Linked DNA regions of Homo sapiens. The protein of the gene in region 2 interacts with the protein of the main gene of each other region in a pairwise test. Each region holds a gene or a part of one and is shown on either strand. Other genes may lie near its edges. The genes, in order: PPIG, DACH1, RNF14 and FGF12.

The links.
Region 1: the proteins of DACH1 (region 2) and PPIG interact in binary tests that used the Homo sapiens proteins (3 or more experiments, as listed by UniProt).
Region 3: the proteins of DACH1 (region 2) and RNF14 interact in binary tests that used the Homo sapiens proteins (3 or more experiments, as listed by UniProt).
Region 4: the proteins of DACH1 (region 2) and FGF12 interact in binary tests that used the Homo sapiens proteins (3 or more experiments, as listed by UniProt).

What each region holds. Positions count from the first base shown.
Region 1 is NC_000002.12:169,601,345-169,608,373, forward strand, and holds part of PPIG (peptidyl-prolyl cis-trans isomerase G), read left to right. Parts: intron 1-2,297; 5' UTR 2,298-2,350; intron 2,351-2,681; 5' UTR 2,682-2,697; coding exon 2,698-2,758; intron 2,759-2,842; coding exon 2,843-2,917; intron 2,918-4,694; coding exon 4,695-4,802; intron 4,803-5,759; coding exon 5,760-5,804; intron 5,805-7,029. UniProt on the Homo sapiens protein: PPIase that catalyzes the cis-trans isomerization of proline imidic peptide bonds in oligopeptides and may therefore assist protein folding. May be implicated in the folding, transport, and assembly of proteins.
Region 2 is NC_000013.11:71,857,191-71,864,219, reverse strand, and holds part of DACH1 (dachshund homolog 1), read left to right. Parts: intron 1-7,029. UniProt on the Homo sapiens protein: Transcription factor that is involved in regulation of organogenesis. Seems to be a regulator of SIX1, SIX6 and probably SIX5.
Region 3 is NC_000005.10:141,972,083-141,979,111, reverse strand, and holds part of RNF14 (E3 ubiquitin-protein ligase RNF14), read right to left. Parts: intron 5,530-7,029; 5' UTR 5,524-5,529; coding exon 5,370-5,523; intron 4,309-5,369; coding exon 4,157-4,308; intron 810-4,156; coding exon 282-809; intron 1-281. UniProt on the Homo sapiens protein: E3 ubiquitin-protein ligase that plays a key role in the RNF14-RNF25 translation quality control pathway, a pathway that takes place when a ribosome has stalled during translation, and which promotes ubiquitination and degradation of translation factors on stalled ribosomes.
Region 4 is NC_000003.12:192,717,513-192,724,541, forward strand, and holds part of FGF12 (fibroblast growth factor 12), read right to left. Parts: intron 1-7,029. UniProt on the Homo sapiens protein: Involved in nervous system development and function. Involved in the positive regulation of voltage-gated sodium channel activity. Promotes neuronal excitability by elevating the voltage dependence of neuronal sodium channel SCN8A fast inactivation.

The DNA.
Region 1 (7,029 bases), on a different chromosome or scaffold from region 2:
GAGCAGTAAGAATAAGACTGAAAATTCAGGTTTATCACATCATGGAACTTATATTCTAGTGAGAGAAGATGGATATAAAAATTGAATATCAATTAGCAATAAATGCTTGGAAGAAAAATAAAGCAGAATAAGAGGATGTAAAGTGTTAGGAGGATGAGAGCTCCTTTCTTGAATACAGTAGACTAGGAATGGGCCTCTATAAGAAGGTGATACTTGAGCAACAAAGGGATGAACCATGTGAAGATGGTTTGAGAGCATTCCAGGTGGAGAGAACAGCAAATGTAAAGGACCTGATGAAAGAGTAGGCTGTTGGGTGGCAGGGGGAACAAGCAGGATACCAATGTAGCTGAAATAAAGTTGAGGAAAATATTAGAAGATGTTAGGAAATGAAAGTTGAGGAAAATGCCTAGAGGTGAACAGGAGCTAAAATATTTAGAGCCGTATAATTGAAATTACAGTAGCCACAAGCCACATGTGCTTTTTGAGCACTTGAAATGTGGCTAGTCTACATTGAGATATGCTTCAAGGATAAAATATACACTGGATTTCCAAAGACTTGTACAAAAAAAAAAAACTCAGTAACATTTTTGTTTAGTATATTTTGAAGTGGTAATAGTTTGGTTGTACAAGTTGAACATCACTAATCTGAAAATCTGAGGTCCAAAATGTAAACTTTCTGAGCATCACAATTGAAAATTTCACACATAAGTACTTAATACAAACTTTGTTTCATGCACAAAATTATTTTTTAAGTTGTATAAAATTACACATACAATTCAGGCTGTATGCATAAGGTATGTTTGAAATATAAATGAATTTTGTGTTTAAACTGTGTCCCATCCCCAGGATATCTCGTGTATGATAATATTCCAAAATTCAAAAAAAAAATCTGAAACACTTCTGGTCCCAAGCATTTCCTATAAAGGATATTCAATCTGTACATACTGAGTTAAATAGAATATATTAAAATTAGCCTGGTTTTTGTTTGATTGTTTGAGTCTCGCTCTGTCCCCCAGGCTGGAGTGCAGTGGTGCAGTCTTGGCTCACTGCAACCTCTACCTCCCGGGCTCAAGCAATTCTCCTGCCTCAGCCTCCTGAGTAGCTGGGATTACAGGCACCCGCCACCACAGCCGGCTAATTTTTGCATTTTTAATAGAGATAGGGTTTCACTATGTTGGTCAGGCTGGTCTCGAACTCCTGACCCTGATCCGCCCGCCTCAGCCCCCCAAAGTGCTGGGATTACAGGCGTGAGCCACCGCACCCGGCCCAAAATTAGCCTGTTTTTGTTTGTCAAAATGTGGCTACTGAAAAATTTTATACCTGGGTGGCTCATGTTTTTATTGAGCAGTGCTGGTCTAGAGCCTTAAAATCCATGCTAAAACTTTTCAGATGAATAGTAAGACAGTTTTAGGCAGGGGAAGGATATGATAAGGTTTGTGTTTTAAAAGAATCATTCCACTCTGGCTATTTTGTGCAGAAGAGGCAGTACAGAATTAAGAGTAAAATAAGAGAAACCAGTTAGGAGGCTATTGGAATAGCCTAGATAAGAAATGATAATGGTAAAGGTAATGAGAACTTTTGGGATAGTTTTTGAAGCTAGAGCCAAATTACCTTCCTAATGGTTTGGATAATGAGGTATGAGGGAAAGTGGAACCGAAGATGACCCCCAGGTTTTCAGCCTCAGCAGCTGGCTTGGACAATGATAATGTTTACTGAGTATTCAAGGGAATGGAGGTAGAAGAATAAAGAGTTTTGTCTTAGATATATTAATTATTTTTAATAAAGTAAATTTTTATTGAAATATAACATAGCGTACATAGCATATGAAACTGTCATTTTTAGAGTCCATCATTTTGGATACTATTTACACTTAGTGCCTTTGTTTCTTCTACGGGTAAGTATCATCTTCCACCAAGTATTACGATTCAGCATTTTAAGTCCTTAAAATAAAATGCCTTATCAAAATAATGTCTGTTAAATAATAGCTTTCTGTTATGGAAATAAAGCTGTTACACAGAGTATCTCTTTGGTATTTTTTGTGTCTATACCAGCATATCAGTAAAGGCTGTTGCTCAGAATCAGCAAGTACCCTCATATGTAAAATTGAATGTGCTTTTACTCAAAATGTAAATCTACCACATATACTATTTAACAATAGTTAAATAGTATATTAACTATATACTATTTAACAATAGTTAAATAGTATATTAACTATATACTATTCTTTTTCTTCTTACATGATTTTTGCTTCTTAAAAATCTCACATTTTAATCAGAACTCTCATTTTTGTTTTCTAGGAGCACAGGGATCAGTTGTCCTTGTTTTTTTTTGGTCTTTTCTTCATTTGAAGGTAATCTGCTTATTGAGTTCACTAATCATACAGAGTAAATACAATTTTCTGTTTGAGCTATTAATCTGTATTCCGGTTGATAAATAGAAAGTTGATTACATAATAATGGTTAAGGCTTAACTTTCAAGTCTTTTCTAATTGCTTCACAAAATGCAATCTAATCTCTAAAAAGAAAGCACTAATAATCCATGTGATTTACCTCATAGAAATAAATATCAAAATAAATTCAAACTATATTTCTAATATTGTTTCACAGAATTTTTTTTCCAGAAATTTGTGAAAGATCTTTGCTATTTTAGTCTGCTTGTCTGAAACTGTATTTTACTCACAGATTAAGTATTGGAGCCATGGGAATAAAGGTTCAACGTCCTCGATGTTTTTTTGACATTGCCATTAACAATCAACCTGGTAAGAATATTAGTTGACATTTATAAATGGGTGTTTAATATTTTAAATTAGTAAAGAAGTTTAACCAACTACCTTCTTTTTCAGCTGGAAGAGTTGTCTTTGAATTATTTTCTGATGTGTGCCCCAAAACATGCGAGAACTTTCGTTGTCTTTGTACAGGTTTGTTCACATTTTCAACTGCCCTAATAGTAGTCTCAGTTGACTATGGCTTGCTTGCTTGCTTGGTTTTTTTTTTTTTTTTTTTTTTTTTTTTGAGACAGGATCTTGCAACGTTGTCCAACTGGACTAGAACTCCTGGGCTCATCAATCCTTACACATAAGCGTCCTCAGCTGGGATACAGGTGTGAGCTACCACACCTGGCATAGCTTGCTTTAATTTTTTATTTACTCTATTTTAGATTTCTCCATGCATATTACTTTTCTCTTAACATGAAGATTACACAGCAGTGACTAGGGCGTGAAAGTAATTCTTAGAAATATTATGGCTGGGCAGCCAGGCGCAGTGGCTCATGTCTGTAATCCCAGCACTCTGGGAGGCCGAGGGGGGTGGCTCACGAGGTCAGGAGTTCCAGACGAGCCTGGCCAAGATGGTGAAACCCCATCTCTACTAAAAATACAAAAATTAGCCAAATGTGGTGGCGCACGCCTGTAGTCCCAGCTATTTGGGAGGCTGAGGAAGGAGAATCACTTGAACCCGAGAGGCAGAGGTTGCGGTGAGCCGAGATCGTGCCATTGCACTCCAGCCTGAGCTAGAAGAGCGAGACTCCATCTAAAAAAAAAAAAAGAAAGAAATATTATGGCTGGGCACGGTGTGGCTGGGCATGGTGGCTCACACCTGTAATCCCAGCACTTTGGGGGGCCGAGGTGGGTGGATCACTTGAGGTCAGTAGTTCAAGACAATCCTGTCCAACATGGTGAAACCCCATCTCTACTAAAAATGCAAATAATCGGCCAGGCGTGGTGGCTCACGCCTGTAACCCCAGCACTTTGGAAGGCCAAGGCAGGCAGATCACCTGATGTCAGGAGCTTGAGACCAGCCTGGCAAACATAGTGAAACCTCATCTCTACTGAAAAAATAAAAATTAGCCAGGCGTGGTAGTGGGTGCCTGTAATCCCAGCTACTCGGGAGGCTCAGACAGGAGAATCACTTGAACCCTAGATGGAGGTTGCAGTGAGCCAAGATCGCACCATTGCTCTCCAGCCTGGGCAACAAGAGTGAAACTCTGTCTCAAAAAAATAAATAACAAAAAATCAGCTGGGTATGGTGGTGTGTGCCTGTAGTCCCAGCTACTCTGGAGGATGAGGCGGGAGATTCGCTTGAGCCCAGGAGGCGGAGGTGGCAGTGAGCCAAGATCACTCCACTGCACTCCAGCCTGGGCGACAAGAGTGAGATCCTGTCTCAATTAAAAAAATAGAGGCCAAGTGTGGTGGCCCATGCCTGTAATCCCAGCAGTTTGGGAGGCCGAGGTGGGTGGATCACTTGAGGTCAGGAATTTTGAGACCAGCCTGGCCAACATGGTGAAATTCAGTCTCTACGAAAAAAAAAATTAGCCGGGTGTGGTGACAGGTGCCTGTAATCCCAGCCACTCAGGAGGCTGAGGCAGGAGAATCACTTGAACCCAGGAGGCGCAGGTTGCAGTGAGCCAAGATCGTGCCACCGCACTGTAGCCTGGGTGACAGAGCTAGACTCTGTCTCAAAAAAAAACCTAAAACCAAACATTAGTTGTAAAGGTATATTATTTGAGAGTGATTTCTACATTCTCCAGAAATAACGTGGGTGATTTTTTAAATGAATTTTTAAAAAAAAATTCCTGAAAGGAATGAAAATATGATTTTAAGTCTGCAGGGTTCAAGAGGGGCATATTTTACATTTATTTTGCTTTCATACTACTTTGATTTCCTTTCTATTAAATGTCCTATTTTTTTATCTCTATAGGTGAAAAGGGGACCGGGAAATCAACTCAGAAACCATTACATTATAAGAGTTGTCTCTTTCACAGAGTTGTCAAGGATTTTATGGTTCAAGGTGGTGACTTCAGTGAAGGTGAGACTTGGAAAAATCATGTATTATTTTCTGTTAAATATCACAGATCTCAAAGTTAGACAAGTCCCTAGAAGTTTTAGTCCAATATTCTTGTCACTCTCACTCCATTTAATCTTTGGTCAATTAGAAGTACTCATAGAAATATGTAAAAGAAGGAAGCTCATAGGCTGGGTGCGGTGGCTCACGCCTGTAATCCCAGCACTTTGGGAGGCCGAGGTGGGCGGATCACGAGGTCAGTAGTTCGAGACCAGCCTGGCCAACATGGTGAAACCCTGCCTCTACTAAAAATAGAAAAATTTGCTGGGCATGATGGCACGTGGCTGTAGTCCCAGCTACTTGAGAGGCTGAGGCAGGAGAATGGCTTGAACCCGAAAGGTGGAAGTTGCGGTGAGCTGAGATTGTGCCACTGCACTCCGGCCTGAATGACAGAGCAAGACTCTGTCTCAAAAAAAAAAAAAAAAAGAAGGAAGCTCATAGAAAATAATTTTGCCTTTGACACATGAATTTCAGAAATAGGCTTCTGGATACAAAACAACACTGCATTCATCTCAGTAATCTGTCAAGTGTTTCTGTTTGATTTTGTCACAAGTGGTAATCCTTACTACAATAAAAATTTTTACTTTTTTATTGTAAAAATATCAAAACTATAGTTTTAAAAAACTTTGAAAAAATGTTAACCTGTTGCAAGACCTGCATAATCATAATTAGAATCTGAAAGTTCTTTTTTAAAATATATTTTAATAGTCTTCGTCACATTCTTGCTATCATAGCATAGGGGAAAGAAAGTAATTTGGGACCTTGTCGTTATTGACATTAATATCTTTTATGATTTGCTGCAATCTTCGAATATTGTTAATTCAAAATTATTCAAAAATCTACTTTACAAGAAGTATTTTGTTTAGGTATCACCTTTGAGGAGCTTACTGAGAGTTATAAGAGTATGTTTTTCATTTTTAGGAAATGGACGAGGAGGGGAATCTATCTATGGAGGATTTTTTGAAGGTAAAAATGTTTACATTTATATTATGTTTTAAATATTTTGTCTTTTATTCTATTTTATTCTCTATGGAATCAATAACATTATTCATTAAAGGGTATACTAATGTCTAGCTGCCTTCAACTAATCTGAAGGTTAATTTTCTGGTAAAAAAAATTGCTTTTTATACAGATGGGTATTTTTTCTTCTTAGGACATTTTTACAACATGATTTGAAAGGGTTTCAATGATCTGTACTTAATTCTTAGAATTTTAATGATAGAATAGGAACTTCCGTAGGTCAATCTTAACTTTTATTAAAGGAGATTCAGCAATATTTCTTACAACATCCAAATTTTAGGTCATTTTTTCTATGAACATTTTTAAAAAATCTTTGATATTCTAAAATTTGACTATAATATTTTCCAAAAATTTAAGTTTTCTTGCTGGAATTTTTTTGTTGATGTGAAGACCATTTGGAAAATGGTCTATAAGCATATTTAATGTGGAAATAATTTAATATTTTTCATCCTTCACTTTTGACATTTAGTGAAATGTTGTTTAAAATTCTACATGATTTGTTCTTAATATTCTAACCCAAGATTGGAAAACAAATTCCTCCTTTTGCGGTAAGTGATGCTATGGCAGAGGTTAAGTTAATGAGTCCAGACTAAATAATACTCTGTGTGCTCAGAAATGAAACAGATGAAATGTAAAAGAATCTAATCTGGACTGTCTCACTCTTTTTTTTAAGAGATGGGATCTCACTGTGTTGCCCGGGCTGGAATGCAGTGGCTTTTCATGGGTGTGATCATAGTGCACTTTAGGTTCAAGCTCCTGAGCTCCAGTGATCCTCCTGCTTCAACCTGCTGAGTAGCTAGGACTACAGCCACACTACTGTGCTCAGCTGTTTCTTGCTTTTTAAAGATAGTTTCATTTTTTTATTTAAATAAAGTGGTGTTATCTTTTCCAAAAATTGTGAAGGACAAATATAAATGGAAAGGAAGGGGATTGAGATAATATTTGGGTTTTATAAGCAAATAATAGAAAATTAATAATATTTGAATCTTAAAAAGATGAGAGGGGAGGCTGGGCACGGTGGCTCATGCCTGTAATCCCAGCACTTTGGGAGGCCGAGGCGGGCGGATCACGATGTCAGGAAATTGAGACCATCCTGGCTAACACGGTGAAATGCCGTCTCTACTAAAAATACAAAAATTAGCTGGGCGTGGTGATGGGCGCCTGTAGTCCC
Region 2 (7,029 bases):
ATGTTGTGTGTGTGTGTGTGTGTGTGTGTGTGTGTGTGTATGTGCGCGCGCGCGCTCAAAAGTATGGACAGGTGGCAGTAAAGATGGGGGGTGGTGGGGGTCGCGGAAGCAAGATCACTAAACGTCATTTACTCAGATAATTGGAGTTCTTGGTCGTGCAGAATGTAAAATATTTGCCCAAAATCTATATTAAAACTATTTGAATCAGGACAGGAAAATTGTTCTGGAGTTATGAAGAAAGCTAGGTGAAATTTGAAGCTAGTTCAGATACGATTGTTATAAAATTGTCTGCCTATCCAGTAAATTGGTGAATTGCTACTTTTTTTTTCTCTTTAATAATCAAACATCTACTCTCCTCGGTATCCTCTTTATGTGTTTCTTACAGCACACTAGATACTAGATAATTAAAGGCCATTTCACATACACACACGTAAACACAAAAAATTACTGGAGAAAACTTTCTTCAATGACTGCATTATAATAAATGTTATAATCAATGTTAAACTCGATTTATTCCCTGAATTTTTGCCTAGATTTGAAGTCCTCACCATGTGGTTGGAGAATATTCTTTAACTTTTAACTAAATATTTTTCAAGTTTTTTCCCCCTGAGGTTAACAACAGATCTGGAGTTTAAACTTGCAGAGCCAAGATAAGTTAAATCCAGTGGAACTGTTTATCTCTTCACAAATATCTCATCACTACTGTAATTATGTTTCAGTCACCTGGCCTTAATAATTTGCAATTACATGTGTTGCTCTAAAACCCTATTTCAAGTTATTTTTAAGTTAAAGGCGGGAAGTTTGTTGATTTAGTATTGTATTTGATCATATATCAACTAAAAAAGCTTACTCAAACTTAAATACATGCAATATTGTAGTCATTAACTTGAGAAGGTGTTTAGTTGCAAATACCTACCTTGGTTTTCCTAACTCTGCCACTGATTGAAGAAATTGAGAACTTGTAATGGAACTCCCTCTCACCAAATATACTGTTTACCCTATATTATTATTTTTAATGATTATTATAAGCATTATTGTCTTATTTCTTACCTTTGAAAGCTTTGAAATGTTTTGCATCTTGCATTTATAAAATTATGATTACTTTTTTCATTCAAGTCAAGTTTATATCTTTGCTGTGAAGAACCTTTTTTATTCACCTAGATGTATTGATTTATTTCACTTTGGTTTCTTTCTCCTCTAGCTACTTAACAGGCTAAGGGAGTAATTTATGTAGAGTATAAGAGAAGCTGAGCAAGAAGGGAAACTGTATAAAATTACTATCTATACACCCATATATGTGTGTATATAATTTATACATGCACATATCATAATTTATATACAATGAGAAACATCAAATCTTAGCACTCTCAGCTTTTTACAGAAACTATGTCTATCTCTTAATAGCATGGAATAATAATACCAGGGATTTTGAGGAACCGAAATGATGTTACAGAAAAGTAAGGTTCATAAACTTGCTCAAAGTGGCTCAGTAAGTTAGTAGCAAACCTTCGAGTGGTTTTAATTTGCTTAGGGCTATTGCATTAGTATGTTATCTATGAAAACTAGAATAAATGTTGAAGCCATCTGTCATTACCACAAGGAGGTGAAAAAGAGACTATCACCTGCTAGACAGTAAAGCTAAAAAATAAAGGTCTCAAAACATGAAAGAAATGTAAAGCTAAAAAATAAAGGTCTCAAAACATGAAAGAAATGTAAGGACATATATTTAAAAGTTGTCAAAGGACAAAGTCTGTCCTTGATCAGCTTCCTCCAATTATTATTTCAAAACTAAACATTAGTTGCATGAACTTGGCTGTTGCAACAGAGGTCAGTTAATTAACTGCTTACCATTAAATAACAACAAAAAAAGAAAAGTAATTATGTACATGGTCAAATCTCTGTTTGTATAAGTCAGTTCCCTTTTTGTAGATTTGGGTTAGGATTCAATTTTCCACGAATTCAGGTTTTAAAAAAGTGACCCTGTTTTATTATGTTATCTAAAATATTCATTTCTTTCATTGTTGTAAGAAGATAATTTTTTCTCAGGATCTTTCAAACAAGATTGTGATGTAGGTTCTAAGTAACCCTAGATTTGAGGGGTTTTTAACTTAAGTAGATTCCAGTTAGTCTTATATATTTTTTAGGCACATACATATATTCACAAACAGAATTCTTTTGTCTTAAAATACCATCCATGGACAAAATATTGAAAGTGTTTTATGTTTCAGTAGTAATATATGAATGAAATTGTAGTGTAAGAAGTACAAAACATTTTCCAACTCTTGACTCTATTTTTTTTTTTTTTTTTTTTTGGTTAGGAGTTTTAATAAAGATGGCAAACCGAACCAGTCTATATTTATTTAACATTTGCCCTGTTGCCTGGTTTTCAATGACACAGACTTATGCATTGATATAGAAAGTTTAACATAAATATAGATTCACTTCTAACAGATAATTACAATACTTGGCACAGAGAAATTAAAGAATTGCTTCAAATGAAGAGAGACTCTGCTTTTGAAGTTTTCGTATTACAGTAGATTAATGCTTCCAATAACGCCTAATGTCTCATTTTATATCATTTCAAAAAGAATAGGGCATAATTAGAAGACTAAAGCTTAAATATGAAAGTTTGCTTGGTTCCACAATTTATTTCTGTATGTTTTTAAAGTGTTAGCAAATTACACTTTAATAACTAGTGTATGAATAAAATATAAGAATATTCTAACCTAGAATTTACTTTGTTCAGTCAAATTATACTGCAGGATATAAGTTGTTGAGTTATTTGGATAATCTCTTCCAAACCTGTTGTTTTTCTAAGAGTTAGTCTCTCACAATATCGTGGTTATTTTTGTCAAAAGTGAACATGGTTATGATGATACTTTACTTTCTGAACTCCACATTTAGTTAATGCTCTGATGTAAGAAATTTGATTTGTACATATGATATTTTATTTTGTGAAGCTTCAAATATTATATAAAATAAACTACACGACAGGCTTTTTTCCTCTAGAAAAATTCTGGTATTCACATTTGACACATAGTTTTAAAATCTTCATTTTTTTAGTCCAAATCTGCTTTTTTTTTGGATTATTCTATTAAATCTCACTCCAGTTTCATGTCAACTACTGGGACAAATATTAACCACCCTCTTTTTGCCTCACTGCATCCCCCAACTCCCTGAGATGTGACACCCTATATTGACTAAAGTCTTGGCAGGATTTGAGCATAAATCACTCTTGTCTTTGGCGATTTACTACGTGTGATTCACCAGCATATGAAAACATGATATGCTTTATTGTTTCTCATTTGATGTTTTGTTTTTAGAGTATAAGTAGCATTAGTAAATTAGCTTAATGTGCAACCAAGTAGTTGTTATTTTAAGAACAATTTGTGCTTTAACTATCAATTAGTATTATTTTATCTTTCCAAGTTATTTTACTAAATTGCTTCATACAATTGCTTTTGTCAGTCAAGTAAAATAGTCATTTCGATTGCATTGTATGAGCAACATAGAAAACAACTACTGCAAAATATAATGGGAAATTAAACTCTCACAGGTTGTAAACTGTCTCCCTTTGAATCCTTGTCTGAAGAAATTAATTTGAACTATGCCTTCTAAATAGGTACAGGTGAGTCATCTAGATTTCATTAAACATTTTTATTTTAAGGTTTTTGTTACTTGGTTCTTTTAAAAAGTTAAACTTTGTTTGAATTTATCTTTCAAGTATTTCCTTTTCAGCTTGTTCACCAAAAAAAAAAAAAAAGTCACATTAAGTTATATATCTTTAGAATAACAGGAAATGTAAAAATGGATATTATTGGCTTGGGTATTTAAAAATGTAATTAAGATAAAGTTTTATCATTTTATGTTTGAATTGTTATAAAAATAGAATGACCTTAGCATATGTCAGCATGTGCCATTTTCTTACTGAGGTAATGCTTTGTGATTGGCCAGTTTAAGAGATGTATATCTGCATGCATGTGTGTGTGTGTGTGTGTACATACGTATGTCTAAATACTACATATTATATGTAGTATATTAATATATTTATATAGTATATGTAGTTTGAATATTCTAGCTAAGACTACACTTATATTTTCAGGCTTTGGGACTGCATTAAGGAGACCCTTCTCTATTATGTTTGTTATGTTCAATAATTAAATTTTTAAAGAAGAAAACTATGAATTAAGAGCCCACCTAATGGAGCTCAGATAAGTGTAACAGCAAAGGCTCTGATCTGCACAGATATGTACATCTCAGGCACAGCAGAGGCTCTGTGCAAACCTACATTTTGCTCAAATTTCTTGTTTCCTTCTTCTCAATCTGCCAAAAATATTTCTAGTAAAAAGTAATTTTTGCTACTGTGGCTGTCTTGTAACTAACTTTTATTTGCTGATATTCGCTTTTTAGCAAATGTCACATACAGGAATGACTTCATTAGGATAGTATAGTTAGTTTACCAAATTATTGCTTTGGAAAACAAGAATACCAAGGATAAGATATTTATATTTGGTCCACTAATTAGTTATTATTAGATTACTGGTGGATTACTTTATTTGTTACACCTATTTATTTTAAGGAGGTTTCTGAGAATCTGTTAAGAGTGTGTCCATTGTTGCTAGTTTTAGGCAGCTAATGATTAGCTTTATATATAAATGTACAAATGACAATGAAAAGAATTTTCAATCCACTATAAATTAGTTATTAGACAATCAATAAAAAGGTCATTGTTTTTCAAATTAATGATACAATTAAAATTAATTTAATGAATAGCAGATAAATGTCCAATTAAAAAATATATGTCACATCACATATAATGACCCAAATCACCACTTGATCCAAAGTCAAGGACCTTGAACCAAATGCATTTAAAATGTATTGGTTTATTCGGACATAGATTTCCTTTATAAGAGAAAAGCATTCGAATTCACCCATTTAAAAAAAATCATCTTTCATTCTTTCTAAATTGGACATTAAATTTGCCAATGACTGCATTGTGTTAAAGGTGTGGTCCTTTTGCTTTCTGATCCAAATTGGCTTGGAATTGATCCAGGATTTCAAGCTGGGATTCTTCTGCACATTTAAATGTATGTGACTTGATTGGAAGTTGTCAAAGACAACTCATTAAACTGGAAATCTCACTATGTCATTGTTTAATTGGTCTTTTTTTGTTGTTGTTATAAGTATATTGAAGTGTTGTAAACTACAAGCACAGCAACACACTGAATAGCCAGTTACTTTTTAAAAAAGTTTTAGAGAGTAGTGATTGATACTGAGAGAGAGACACACAGAGAGAGAGATACAGAGAGAGAGAGAGAGAGAGAGAGGCAGAGAGAGGCAGAGAGAGAGAGTGCTTAACTGAAGTATCTATAATAATGTACCGTACAGGTTGAATACAATACCTGGAATACATTACATTTTTCTAGCAGGAAGTAAAAGTGAAATAAGCCAGGCACAGAAAGACAAATACTGCATGATATCACTTACATGTGGAATCTAAAAAAGTTGAACTCATAGATGCAGAGAGTAGAATGGTGGTTACCAGGGACTGGAGAGCTGTTGGTCTAAGGTTACAAAATTTCAGTTAGATAGGAAGAAAATGTTGTACAACGTGGTGATTATATTTTCTATGATTTGAAAAATAGAAATAAATATACTTTGATTTGACTATAAGTAGATCTTTAAGAATCCTGAAGTGGATTTTGAAGATAGCCTATATTTTTGACAAAAAAAATATGGATATACTTTTAAAGCATGATTTTCATGAAGCAAATACTGCAATAGGCCACATAGTACATTGGTTGATGTTGATTGGTAACATTGAATAATTGAGAAATGTTTTTGTTTCCTTAGCGTATATGAATGGAGTGGTAAACATGAAGTATTAAAAAGTCACAGTGTTAAATGATCTTTGAATTTGTATGGTATCAAGTGTTTGTAAATAATTAGATTGCCTTTCCAGTTACAACAGGAAAAAAATAACCTTATTTTTCTTCAAGGGCAAACAAAATATATCTTAAGAAAGAAAGTGTACTACTTGAAAGGGAGATATTTTATGGAAACATACAGAAGCATTTGCAGTAAATATTTATCAATTCCATTTAAGGGATACTGGTCATTTCTTCAGTAAAGGCAATGAAAATAAATCTCTAGAATATGTTAACTAAGAAATAGTGTATTACATTCACTTATCAGGCAGATGGAGTATTTTGTTAAAATCTTAAACTGTATCCTGATATTTTATTAGTAGCAACAGTAAATGGGCTGTTTTATTCATAGTCTTATATTTTAAAGACATATTGTTTATGTATGAACAAAGTAAATCACTTAAGGTGTAACAAATCTTTGAACCCATCATAGTTCTGCTAAAATATACTGATGCATTCAACAGTATTACTTTCTATTTTATGTTTCAAATTTAGGATTTTTATTTAATTTGATTATTCAAAATGATATTATCTTCTTGAGTTAGGCACTTACACTTAAATAGTGCCTTTTGATTTTAAAAGAATAACCTGGAACACTTTTATTTTTCATAATACCTGTCACACATTTTATATGAGGATGAATGTTCTTGTGTGTGCAACAAGTGTAAAATTTTTATCAGTAGTTTAGAGAACTCTGTGGTGGATATTTTTTATATGTATTAGCATTAGCTCATTTGTACTCTATGCTTTAAATAATTGTCGTACATTTGGTAGAAAAGCCTTTACATACATGTATATGTGTTGTGTAGGAATACATTCACACACACACACGCAAACATAACATATACACCTGTAGGATGTAGGGCCACAGGACAAATAACTTAGGAAAATACAATTGGCTTTAATTTTACCTTTTTGTAGCACATAAAAACATGAAACAATACATCAATAAACAGGTCCTATTTTACTGAAATACAACAGAAAAAAAGAATTAATTTTAGAGTTAAAGAAGTAGTTTATACTTAAATATTTTAGATATAATTATGCAAGGCTATATGGTTATTAGGACAGTGATTAAAAACAGCTTAATTTTTCTAAACCT
Region 3 (7,029 bases), on a different chromosome or scaffold from region 2:
TTTATGGGATCCTACTAGCAGATATACAAAGTAAATTATCACAATTACTTAATAACTACTTTAACACTCATCCTTGCCCACTGCAAGGCCAAAGGAAGCATTCCATTTGCTTAAGCAGTAGACTAAGACCATAGCATTTTTAATGGATACAGCAAAACAACTTGTGGGCTGGCTCCAAGGCCTCGGACTGCCCCATGAGCCCTATCAAGGAAGTTCCTGAGATGATATCTCCATTTATGGAAGAGAATTAGGAGGCAACCATCAGCAGGGTAAACAGTTACCTGACCAGGAGTGGCCACCGAAGGGCACTTTGGTTCTGGGCAGTTGAGGCATTGAACCTGGCCATCTCTGATCTGGATTTCAAAGTAGTCCTTCAGACAGGCTTTGCAGTACACATGCCTGCACTCCAAGAAGTACATGCATTCACTACCCAGCTTCTCACAGAAACAGATACTGCACAGGAACAATTTACTATTAAAGCATTTTATCTGCTGAGCTTGATCAAAGTCCAAGATTTCCTGGATCAGATTTGACAGTGATTCCACATCCTGCACTGCTCTCTCATCCACAATTTCCTCTTGGTCTACATCAGATCCAGCAGCTCCTCCAAAATCTAGCTCTGTGTTGGGAGAAGCTTGAGCTGTCCTTCTCTGCACTTTTTTCTGAGAACCAATCTTGAGCTCAAAAGGAGAGACAATATTCAAGTATGCTAGGGTCTCTTCCTTAAGAAATTGCATCCAGGCAAACAGGACCACGCTGCCACGGTGTTCTTCCCATAGGTTGTCTAAGTGCTTGCATAGAGCAGATAGCTAGGAGAAAACACATGAAGATGTTGGTGAGTTTGGAAAGATGATGCTGCTGCCAACTCCTGGTTTCCCTAGAAATCTTTTCCACTTGCAAGTTAGGCCCTTATTCTAACACTATTTTTTACTGCTGTGATACACTGTGCTACATACAAAACAGTACAAACATTCTTACTGGAGCACTTCTTAAACTATTCGGCAACATGAGCCAGAGTAGAACATAAAGTCAGAAGCAAGAAGTACCACGAGAAGAAGAGAAATAGCAAGACTCCGTAAGGTAGAGAAATAGCTGTACATTTTAGCCACTGAAATGGAAGACTTTTTTCTGTTCTTTAATCTTTTAGTACTGCCATATACCTCATGTAGGACAAAGAGATCTAGTTCTAAAAATAAACTATTTTTCTTCCATTAGGAGTCCTAGCCCTGTTCGTATCCTAGAATAATGGTTAGAAAAAGAATAGTTTAAAAATACTATCCAAGTTTTAAAATTAATTCTTTCAGTTTTATCAAAAAGTCAACTCATCTGAAACAATCACTAACAGAATTCAACCTCAGAGTCCTTGTTCAGATTTACAAGCTGCTTTTAAGTAAGCAATCTGGGCTTATATCAGATCCTGGTTAATGGAGGGAAGCTGCCTGATATTGACCCTGGTCCTAATCACAAGCCCTCAGCAAGGTTTGGCAGCCATAGAGAAAGCTTACACTTCCTAAGCTAAGCAACCAAAATTAAATTATTTGGAATTTTCCTCTTTAAAAGTGGTCTGTTCAATTTGAAAGGCAAATGTTGGAGAATTTTCCATTAGAAATATAAAATATTTTTAACTAGAGCACAGGAATTATAAGCAGCTTTTCTTTTTTAGGTAAACATCCAAAAATATGCCTTCCAGATGGCAAACAAATTTTGTAAATTTAAATGACAAATGAAAAGGGACCAGATTTTCTGTTTCTTACACTCTGTGTAGTGCCACTGACTAAACCCTGCATAGGTACTACCTTAAATACTTATTGATGAGTTAAGATTGAACAACTAATGATTTTTCACATTTGCATAAATATCCTTATAAATCAACCATGCTTTTGAGAAATCTGCTAACATCTGTAAAATGTGATAAATACTAAAAGGGAAGCTATGAGTGCTGTGTGAGCTACCAAGTCCTATGAAGAAGCCATTCTCCAACCTCTTTTCTACCCCAGTCCCTTCTCAAGAGAGGCAGCTGGGGCTGGGCGTGGTGGCTCATGCCTGTAATCCCAGAACTCTGGGAGGCCAAGGCGGGTGGATCACCTGAGGTCAGGGGTTGGTGATCAGCCTGGCCAACATGGTGAAACCCTGTCTCTACTAAAAAATACAAAAAATTAGCCAGGTGTGGTGGCGGGCGCCTGTATTCCCAGCTACTTGGGAGGCTGAGGCAGGACAACCACTTGAACCCACTAGGCAGAGGTTGTAGTGAGCTGAGATTGTGCCCCTGTGCTCCAGCCTGGGTGACAGAGCAAGACTCCATCTCAAAAAAAAAAAAAAAAAAAAAAAAAAAAAAGAGAGAGAAAGGCAGCTGGAATGCATGTAAATGGAAGGGGGACGGGAAAGAGACTGTGTAAGTATATTGGGGGAGGAATAAGGAATAAGGTTTTAGAAAACTAAAACCACTTCCCTCTGTCTACCCGCCCCAATTCAGGGAATGACAGCTCTATGTGTCAATTTCACCATTAACAGGTGAGAGTCATAATGCCAAGGAATCAGGGTACAGCAACAAACAAGAACTGAACCAAGAAGGAATATAAGAGACCAATTAAAATGTTAATTATATGCATAAACATTTATTTGATTAAGAATTCTACTGTAATTTTAGCTGTAACACATAAAACAACTCTCTTCCCCAGCACACACCTCCGCCCCCAAATCCAGCATTAAGTAGATGCTGGTTGGCTGGAATCTGAAACCACAACCACGCATCCAGTTAATCTGTCCCTGTTTTGTGCGTGTGTGTGCATGCACGTGCATGCACGCACATGCGTGGATGTAAAGTATGAAAAGCTCTCTGGTGAAATAGGACTATGAAGATCTAAATAATTAAGCCAACTATCAGTGGCCTAAATGCCAAACAGTCTTGATATTCCTGGACAAATCAACTGTCTTGCATCTGTTGCCTCTGGCACAGACATTAGAATGTAAAGTAATACTCCTTTTTATTCTACCTGTGTTATCCTTTTTAAGGTTTAATTTTGCTTTTAAACCATAAGCTCTAGTTTGTGAAAGTACTCTCACTTAAAAGATTAGATTGGTGGATGGGGAAATGAAAACTGTATGATCCAAAGAGAAAAACTAATGAGCTATTCCTTGAGGTCAGCAACTCTGACATCTTTTGTCTTTTTCTTTTTTTTTTTTTTTTGAGACAGGGTCTCTGTCTGTCACCCAGGCTGGAGTGCAGTGGCTCAGTCTTGGCTCACTGCAATCTCTGCCACCCAGGCTCAAGTGATCCTCCCACCTCAGCCTCCCAAGTATCTGGGATTACAGGGACGCACCACCACACTTGGCTAATTTTTGTATTTTTTGTAGAAATTGGGTTTCGCCATGTTGCACAGGCTGAGCTTTTGTCTTAATACACATTAGTCTATTGATCTTCATTATGACTTCTAGAAAAGCAGCTGCTGATTCATTATCTCTCCCAGAATGCTTTATATTATTTATATTTAGCTTCAAGCCATATTTATGTCTCAATCAAGAGTTGAGGTTGTTACTAGAAAAGTATATATAACCCAGAGGAAATGAGGTGCTTAACATAAGGCCTCAAGCCTTACTGAGATATCTACAGGAACTATACACATTTCTACTTGTATGCATTTATGTCTACGTGATACCAGTTGACTGTTATTTGTTATTAATACAGATTTTTACAAAGAAAATCAGTTATTGTATTCACTCAGAAAATTTGCTTATTATAACTACATTAGCTCAATTTTTAGTCCTAATTACAATGGAATCTTTCATTTAAGGAATGGATAAGAAACTAAGAGAAAAGTAGTATCAATGTCTAAGGAAAATGAGGAAGACCTCTTAGTCTCCATTATAATACAGATTAAACAGGAAAATAGCAAGACAAGAAAAGAAATAATATACTTGATTAAAAATTACTCCTACTACAATTCATGATTGTTTTAATTACTGCCATTCCTTTTTAAAACACCAAACATTTTCAATTTCTTAACATCAGGATTCACCAAGGCAAGGGAAAAAAATTACAAAACCAAAGCCATTTGTTTTTCATGCACTGAATTCAAGATCTTTAAGATAGTCTTCAATTAAAGGTGATTTTTAAGTTTCTAAAAATGGATAGGAAAAATTAAGTTTCAAGTCTAACCTGAGTTGGTGACAGCCATTTGCCACTAAGTGTGAATGAAGGTGGGGAAGAGGATGGATAATCTGGTGGCAGTTCAAAGTTCAGCACAAGTGGAGGCAGAAAGCAAATGGTGTATTCAAAGCCACTATTCTGGAGACACTCATTTGAATTGCCTGAACCAAAAACAAAGATTAGAAAGGATCAGTTGGTCAACACTTGAGTGTCCACTACTGTTGAGCAGCGCTCAAGAAAGACTTAATGCTTTAGTTGAGGGAATAAAAACCCTCCCCCAAAGCACTTTCTATTTCTTAATTTTAACTTCGTAGCCACCACCTTAAAAAAAAATCTTGTAAGCCCTTGAAAAATCTACAGCACCATGAAATGTATAATGAAAATACTACAACTTATTCTTGTATACACTTCTGAGTACAATTCCTAACACTAATGACCAAGGAACACACAATGTTTGTTTTGTTGTGGTTTGGTTTACAGTGGATGATTGAAGACACAATCTAGAGAAAGGATGTTCATTTCCATTGAACAGCATGACCTACTTAGACCAGCATGTCCCACTTAGACCAGCATGTCCCAACTACCCATGAATCAGTTGGGAAAATTTGTGCCAACACAATGATCTCAGGTTTGAGGATATAATATAGCACACAACACTCTCACAATCAAAGTTTCATTTAAATTACCACACTTACTTTCCTTACTCAATCCCTTTATAGTAGAAACATTTTGAGAAAGTGTGCATCAAAGTCTTCTGTAAATGTCTGTATCAAAAGCAGCAGTTTTGTTTTTTCTGAAGCAAAAGGTCACAGAGTAATAGCATGTGTCATATGTTTATAGTAGTTGAAATGATTCTGGAAACCAAATAGTATTAACCACCACCACTGTACTTGAAAATTTCTAAGCGTTTTCACATACATTCATTTTCTCTTTGATTACTGCTATGTAACAGCCAATGACTCATGGCTGATAAACTGCTAGTTAGCAGACCAGGATGTATGAAATATGCAGGATAATATCCCTCTTCAGTGATCAAAAAGGTAGAATCAAATTGAAAACTGCTTGCCCCTCATTGCAATTTTCATTTAAAACAGAAACATGCATTACCTCTGTAATACTACCACCTATCACTAATGCCTAAAACACAAAATGACAAATAGTTTAAGGTACACTAAGAAATAAAGAATAATAGAAAAATCTGTTTAAGAAATTATTAACTAACCGCTCACAAATATCTTGAAATTCTGTGGCAAATCCAAATAGATCCTGGTTTCTCCACCTTGGACAGACTCTGCTTTTCTAAATTCATCTCCATCGTAAATACTTGCCAGGGCCAGCAATTCATCCTCCTGAGCTTCTCGATCTTCTGACGACATAAGGACCTGAAAACATTAAAATCAGTTAAGAACAGAAAATGCACAGAGGCTGGCCGGGTGTGGTGGCTCACACCTGTAATCCCAACACTTTGGGAGGCCGAGGCGGGCGGATCACCTGAGGTCAGGAGTTCAAGACTAGCCTGGCCAACATGGTGAAACCCCATCTCTGCTAAAAATACAAAAATTAGCCAGGCGTGGTGGCAGGTGCCTGTAATCCCAGCTACTTGGGAGGCTGAGACAGGAGAATCGCTTGAACCGGGAGGTGGAGACTGCAGTGAGCCAACATCACGCCACTGCACTCCAGCCTGGGCGACAAGAGTGAAACTCCGTTTCAAAAAAAAAAAAAAGAAAAGAAAATGCACAGAGGTGGAAAAAGCTTAATGGCACAAAAAACAACTGCAAAGAATTAATCGATATTATCACTTTTCTCCTAAACCAAAAATGACAGCCATATCTGGCATTCCATTAGTTTTGCAATATTAACAGTCTTTTTCAAAAGGGATGGTTGTGGTACTTCTAATTCCTGATCTTATCAGTTAGATATTTTATGACTGAATTAGAGGAAAAAAAGCACAATTTGAAAATTTTCTTTGAAAAGGACAAATCACAAATTTACTTTGACTTGTCCACTGAACCTAGCAATGTGCCTGGTTCGCAAAAGTGGTCAAAGTATATTACACTCCTTTCTTAAGTTAATTTGCCAGGCGCGGTGGCTCGTGCCTGTAATCCCAACACTTTGGTAGGCCGAGGCGGGCAAATCACCTGCAGTCAGGAGTTCGAGACCAGCCTGGCCAACGTGGTGAAACCCCATCTCTACTAAAAATACAAAAATTAGCTGGGTGTGGTGGCTCACCCCTGTAATCCCAGCTACTCGGGAGGTTGAGGCAGGAGAACTGCTTGAACGTGGGAGGCAGAGGTTGCAGTGAGCTGAGATTGCACCATTGCACTCCAGCCTGGGCGACAGAGTCAGACTCTGTCTCAAAAAAACAAAAAAGTAAATTTTTTAAATCCACAGGAATCTTTAGGGCAAGTTTTCTTAGCTTCAGCTCTATTGACATTTTGAAGTAAATAATTGTTGTTGGAGAGCTGTGTTGTGCATTATAGAATCTTAACAGCATCCCCTGGCTTTTACCCACTAGATACCCAATAGTGGCCCGCTTCCACCCACAAGAGCTGTGACAACTGAAAATATCTAGCCAGGTGTGGTGGTGCTTGCCTGTGGTCCCAGCTACTTGGGGAGCTGACATGGGAGGATCACTTGAGCCTGGGAGGTCGAGGCTGCAGTGAGCCATGATAGCACCACTGCACTCCAGCCTGAGTGACAAAGTGGGACCCTGTCTCAAAAAAAAAAATATCTCCAAATAGCGCCAGGTCCTGGGGCAGGATGGGGGTTGGAGGCAAAATTGCTCCCAGGTGAGAAAACAGTGCTTGAGAATGTTACAGGCATAGATATTATGGAAGAAAATTAGATAACTGAGCAAGCAGCAAAATAATATTAAATTTTTG
Region 4 (7,029 bases), on a different chromosome or scaffold from region 2:
AGAGCTTTTTTAAGTTTAGCTGGATCTGTTTAAGTTTATAACTGAACCCAACACCTATTACAGTTTTTTTCCCCATAAAGCATAGAAAGAAAATCTGCTTTATGGGAAAAAAACTGTAATAAAATATGTGAAAAAGGATAAAACTCCACTTATAATTCAATCGTCATTATCCAAATATTGTCACTTTTTGCATAATACAATCTACTATTTGCCAATGACCAAATTTTACATTATAATTAGTGCATATATCCACATGTACTATTTTTATAATTACCATTATGTCATAAACACTTCTGATTATAACCCATGTTCATAAACATGTTAATGGCTGTTAGATATTTCCCTTTCTTTTATTCTTCGCATAATCAAGAAATTCAGTTTATTAACCATGAAACCCTTAGACCTTGGATAGCTTTCATCTGGTGGTAGAAAATGCTTCTTCTATCTAAAATGATCAGTAGCCAATCAAACATTGGAAGACATAGTTATTGGTTTTTAAATTGTTTGAAGGCAATGAAGGATTGAGTGCAATTGTTTTTTAGTAATATATTACTAATGATTGAGAACTAAAGAAAATCAGACTTCCTATCAATAATGTCAGTAAAACACTCAGCCCTTGGACTGTTTGTCATTATTCTGTTAGTCTTTCTTTTTTTTTTTTTTTTTTTTTTTTAGCAAGAAGGTGCTGGTTAGGGCTGGCAGAGAGAAGAAAACCATATCCACCAAATCAACTTCACATATGACTGTTGTATAAATAAACTCATCTTAATTGTAAAGAGGACACATATGAGGGTGAAGAAAAGACGTTATAAAAACATAATGTACAATCTGCTAAGCAAAAATGCCATCAAGTTCGCCAAAAGAGATAGGAGAGAACAAGCAGCTGATCATAAATCTTTAAACAGAATGTATCCACTGTAGTTCCTATATAAACACTTCACAAATGCTGGTTCTTTCAATCCCAGAAGTGAAAAGAATCTTGCCTCTAATCCACTCTTGTTTTGCAGATGAAGAACAAGGCCATAGAAAGAAAGCCACGAGCTCAAACTGAAGATGGGGCGGGAATTAGGATTCAAATCCAGGTCTCCGGATCCCCAAGACAGCGTCTTTTCCACAAGGCCACTGCAGCCATCCATCAATTTAGACATGAACCTGTTACCTATGTGGTCACAATCATGCCATATACAAACTTTAGCCAAGTAGCACTTTTTTCCTCTTAGTGCTTTCTCACTCAGAATCAAATTAATTCCTCAATAAAGTTATAAATCCAACAACTTCAGTTGCACAATTCACAGCATTAAAAAGCTAGCTCAAACCCACACTGAGTCCTTAAAATTTGATGTGGTAATTATGATCACCCTGTTTATTTTCTGTAGAAGTTAAGCCTAAAGAGGATCAAGAAAGAATACAAACAAGCTTAAAATAACAATTTCTTTGTAACAAGAAAATAAAAATCAATAATGGGCAAACCGAGTTAAAAAAAAAAAAGAGAGAGAGGTTTAGTACACTGAGGTTCATCCATGGAATAGAAGAACGAGAACCTGATCCCAGATCTTCTAGCATTTAATAGATTAGATTAGAATAATCTAAGTAGTCTGTTAGATTAATACATTAGAATATTAGTTATATTTCATTGGAACATGCACCATGTGTATTTTATGCCTCAGTGTATCACCAGAGTATACAATGTCATAATTCCACCAGTGTGCATACTACAGTTAGAAAAGCTCAGCCTTAGAACAGCTAACAAACAGCAGGTTCTAAGGAAATACTGCTTATTGAATCAATCAACCAATGGTCTCATTTTAAAAGACTGGCACTGATTGGTCTGTGCTATTGCTTTAGTTGTCTCCTTCATGTTTACGTTATTGTTATTGAGGGTCTTGCTATATTTGCATAATCGTTTGTTTTTTATGCTGATGCAAATCAAAGCCCATAGTAAAAAAGTACTCATTTCATCTCATGTTAAGTTATTTGTAGGCTTGAAAATAAAGAGTGATTTACATGAAAACCTTTATCTTGATACATAGCAAATATTTCTCTTTTAAATCCCAGAAGAAAGAAGTAAACCAAATTCAATTTTAAATAGTGCTAGAAATGTTGAACATGTTTTGAAATGAAGGAAAAGCCTTTAGATAAAATGTGTAAATAGTCTAATTTTAAATTTTCCAGATTTAAACAATTAGAATGATCATATAATAAATCTTATATAATAGTCTTGTTTGTAGAGTATCTAACCCCAATTTATTATAATATGTGAAAGAGACTAAGGGCAAAAAAAAAAAAAAAAAAGAAAAACAAGAAAAACAACCCAACACATTTTGAAGCAGGAAGCATATCTAGATTTTTCAGTTCCCAAGTATCTGAAAAGAAATTTCCCAAATTACCTGTGTTGAGGTTTGTTCAATCTGTTAGAGTGCTATCAGTACTGGAGGATTCGAGGAAAACCTGTTTCACGTGGGTGATAATTGTAGAAGTGAATGAGGTAGGGAGAGATTGGCATTGCTGCCTCTTCCTGCCTGCTTGGTAAAGGACTCTTTGGTGCATTTAGTTATCTTCTGAACAGCCTCTGAAAGTTTCTGGATTCTTTTTCTGCAGTCTAGTCCCTTTGGGTTGCTTCTCAGGCTAATGGCCAATCCACAAACAAGAAAGAAACAAAAACCTAACCACAGAATGGCAGCATGCCTTTACTTCTATCACGTAGTTTAAAGTCCCACTTTCAATTATGTGTGCTTTTTCAATCATTAGTAATGGGGCTTGTTTCAGGTAAAAAGCCAGGCAGAGTATGCGCTAAAGAAAAAAGAAAAGATCTGTGAAGGGGCAACAGGTGTCCTTTGGGACTTCTGCCTAGGTGCCATCAGCAGCATCGCAGCAGTTAAATACCACGGCCTCCCTGGGTGGGAGTCTCACATTCCCAAAGACAAGGAGACAGAGACTATTTCAAAAAGTAACTGGAGAGATGAGAAAGCTAAAATTAGAACTATTGACATAGATCCTTAAAAAATCCTACCGTGCTCTGCATGCAAGGATGCTAATAAGGAGATGAGGAAGATGATGCTGGGGAAAATGGCATGTCATCTTAGCCTCAAACTCTTGCCATCTATTTTGCATATCTATTTTCAATCCCAAGTCTGTAGTACAGAAATGAAATCTCTCTTCTACACACACTCTCTTAACACTAAAGAGGGTGGTAATAAAAGACAAGGCCCAGGCAGTAGAAGTCCTATAGTGCTCCTGATAAAGAACACATGTATGTGTTATAGTTTCCTAGTAACCATCTTGGAGCTTATCGATGGATTCATAATTGAGGACATACATCATCACCTGAGTGTTTCTTAAATATCTGACTTGCAGGTATTACAGGATGTCTGGTGGTTCTGAGATGTACCCCGATTAAGACCATTGTTAGTGGCCAGAATTTACACAGTTTATGTTTTAAACCCATCCAAGGTGTAATACTTGACTCAATATATCTCCATCCCCAAACCCATAAGATGTAGAGACAAATTCAGGTGTTGGAGACGTTACTATTAAAACTGTAGAATAAGCACACAAGAAATCCCTTTTGGTAAAGTGAAGTTTTTGTGGGAGTTAATGAAGGGTGATTTATTGAGTGTCGTGCAGTATACTTGCTGCTAAAACTACAAAAATGGCAGAGGACCAATTTCTACCATCCAGGATCTCACAGTCTAGTGTAAAGAGAGATACAGCTAAAAATGATGAAAGTCAGATTATAATTCTAAAGAGTTCTAAATACTTTATTAGCATGAGTTTTATTTCATAATCATGATATTATGGTACAGCACTTGGGATGGGTATAAGAATTTTTATTTTGCAGAGAAACAGAGGTAAGATGAGTTGCCTAAGTCATTTAGTCTTTATGATCCTTTGTTTTGTTATCTATAAAATAAAGTTAAAATGCCAAATCACAGGGTTTTAAGGGAGATTGTATATATTAAAAGCCTTTTGAAAAAGTACAAAGTGTTTCACGAACGTTATTTATGGGTGTAAATATGTGACAAATCAGGAAACCCAATATTAAGAGATGCAATAAACCATTATTGGTCAATCAGTAGCACAAAACACCAAACCTAATAAGGTTGGTACTTCAAAAACTTAAAAGCACAAAAGAAAAAGGATAAGGGAATGGCAAGTAGGTTGGCCTCCCCCAGACCTATTACTGAGGGTAACAAGCCTCATAATAACCTAAAGCAAGAAACAGGTTAGGCAGGTAGCTAGTCAGGTGGAATAGCTTTTATAGTAGATACATAGCTTGAGTTCAAATGTTCTCCCACACAATAATTTTGTTTAAATAAACCAAAGGGGAAACAAAAGGCAGGAATTATTGCTGTGGAATGTTAAGTGCCTCTTTGGAGCTCATTAATCACTGTAAGACTTTATATTCTAGCCTCCCGGATAACCTACTAGAACTCTGAAAGATGAATGGAGAAGACACATAAAATGCTAGAAATCAACAGCTCTTGATCCTGTTCATATATCCCTACATTGTAAGCTTTTAGAGGGCAAGTCAATAAACTATTTATACCTCTGTCCCCCACATTTAATAATGTGCCTGGAACAATGTGGCAACTCGGTATTTTAAATTAAATGAACTGGACCCCCTTTGATATTTAAGAATCTTGAGACCCAAAGAGGAAAAGATTTGTCCAAATTTACACCATGACAGGTGGAGTAAGAAACTGTATTTCCTACACTCAGTGACTATACATCATGATTTTACTGAATTATGTTTTACTTATCTCACTATACTGGCTCAGTCTTTTATTATTGTTGTTGTTATTGTTTAACCACAAAATGGCTCTTCTTAAAATCGCTTTCCAGTTCTGATATACTAATGATTGCATAGACATTTCCTTTCTCTGCTGCAGAGTAAATCATCCTGGCTTCAGAGAAATGACTGTTCTATACCTTAAGTGTGTTGGTTCATGGCCCTGACTGAACTCTGATGGCTGGTATGAAATCTAGAACAAAGAATTGAATCTTCCTTGGAAATACATGTGCAGGTCTCTCTTGAGAGAGTGGGTCAAATTACTCCCTTCCATGTTCTGGAATCACACTGATGTTTCTGGGAGCCCTCCTGGTAGCTAAGTTTCCCACACTTCTCCCAACTTACAATCTTCTGGATCCATGAAGTTGGCCTAAAAAAACTAATTAAGGCTATCCAACGCATATAATTCGAATCCCTACTATGCAAACTTAAATATTCTACCTGAGATAGACACTTAGGTGGTTGCTGGAATGTTAAAGGCTCAGATTTTGCCCACGAGAAGGTTAATATATTAGTGAAGATAGAAGAGTGAAATTGTCAAGTTCAGAGATTGCATCTTAGTTTTCTTTCACATTCTCAGAAATAAGCACATTGGGTACATATCAGATGCTCAATAAATATTTGTTTAAATAAAAAGCACAAAAATTACAATGTTGACTGTAAGAAACGCAGTATGTGAGGGACAAACGAGTACTTAGGTCATAGGAATCTCAAAAGGGTTGAACAGAGAGGTATGACAATAGAAAAGGATAAAACTATATTCACTCTGTTTAGAAGTGCCTTGATTTAAGTAGTCAAATATCATCACATTACCATGAGTTAACAGCAGACTTTGTCAGGAGCTTAAAATGAATGTAGAGAATAAATATTTAGGGTAATTGGGGGTTGAAAGTAAGTGATTGGAGGATGAGCAGCAAGGGTATTTAAAAGTAAGTTTGTTTTCTGATCTAACTATGAGTTAGATCACGCAGTTTCTTTTTCATTTCATTTTTGTTGTATCCAAAAACAACCAGAAGACCTAGAACATGATCACATATCCATGAGCCTTCATAATGATTAGACAGATAATATCAAATCTTCTCTACTGAGGTGCCTGGAGTGGTGTCATTCATTCTCAGGTGCAATCAGTTCCCTGAGATCTACACCAGTGCTTCTTAAATGTTAAAGTGCATAGAAATGACCATTAGATTTTGTTGAAATCCAGATTTGATTTGGTAGATGTGGTGTAGGGACTGAGATTCTGCATTTCTAACAAGCTCCCAGGTGATGCAAATGCTGCTGGTCTGTGGACCACCAGCAGTAATGCCCTACATCAGTGGTTAACTCTGGCCATCCATTAGCATCACTTGGGAGCCATTTAAAACTACTTATGCCCAGATCCCACCCCAGAACTAATTAAACTCACATTATTAGGGGTATGGCCTAAGCATCTTTACATTTGAAAAGCTCTACAGGTGTTTCTATAGGTAGTATGCCAGCTTGAGGCTGGAAATCTACCTAGACAAAGAAAAATGTGATATAGGTGGGGGTCAGTGGGAGGTGAGAGTGTGTGTGTGTGTGTGAGAGAGAGAGAGAGAGGAGAGGAGAGGAGAGGAGAGGAAAGGGGAGGGGAGAATAGGGGAGAAAGGAGGGAAGAGGAAAGGAGGGGAGGGGAGGAGAGGAAGGAGGGGAGGGGAGGAGAGGAAGGGAGGGAGGGGGAAGGAAGAAAGGGAGGAAGGGAAAAGGGAGGGAGAAAGGGAGGAAGGGAAAGGGAGGGAAGAGGGAAAGAAGGAAGGAAGAAAGGAAGGAAGGAAGAAAGGAAGGAAGGAAAGAAGGAAGGAAGGAAGGAGGAAAGGAAGGAAAAAGCCTGTTTCCTCACTCCAAATCATGCTTCTCAAACATTAATGTGCATACAAATTGCCTAGGTACTTTGTCAAAATTCTAATTCTGACTCAATAGACCTGGAGTAAATATGGAGATTCTGCAGTTCTAAAAAATTTGTCTGCAAACCACATTTTGACTATCAAGAGTCTAAATCAGTGGTTTCCAAACACTGCTGTACATAGGGACCTCTAAAGGAAACATATATGCTTTTTTCTTCCACCCCAATATTCTAATTTCATTGGTATGCGGTGCCATCTCAGGATGAGTATGTTCAGAAAGTATGTCAGGTGATTCTAGTGTGCAGCAAACTTTGTGAACCACTCCTCTAAATACTAAACATTTTAACTCATTTAAGAATCTCAAGCCCTTAAGATACG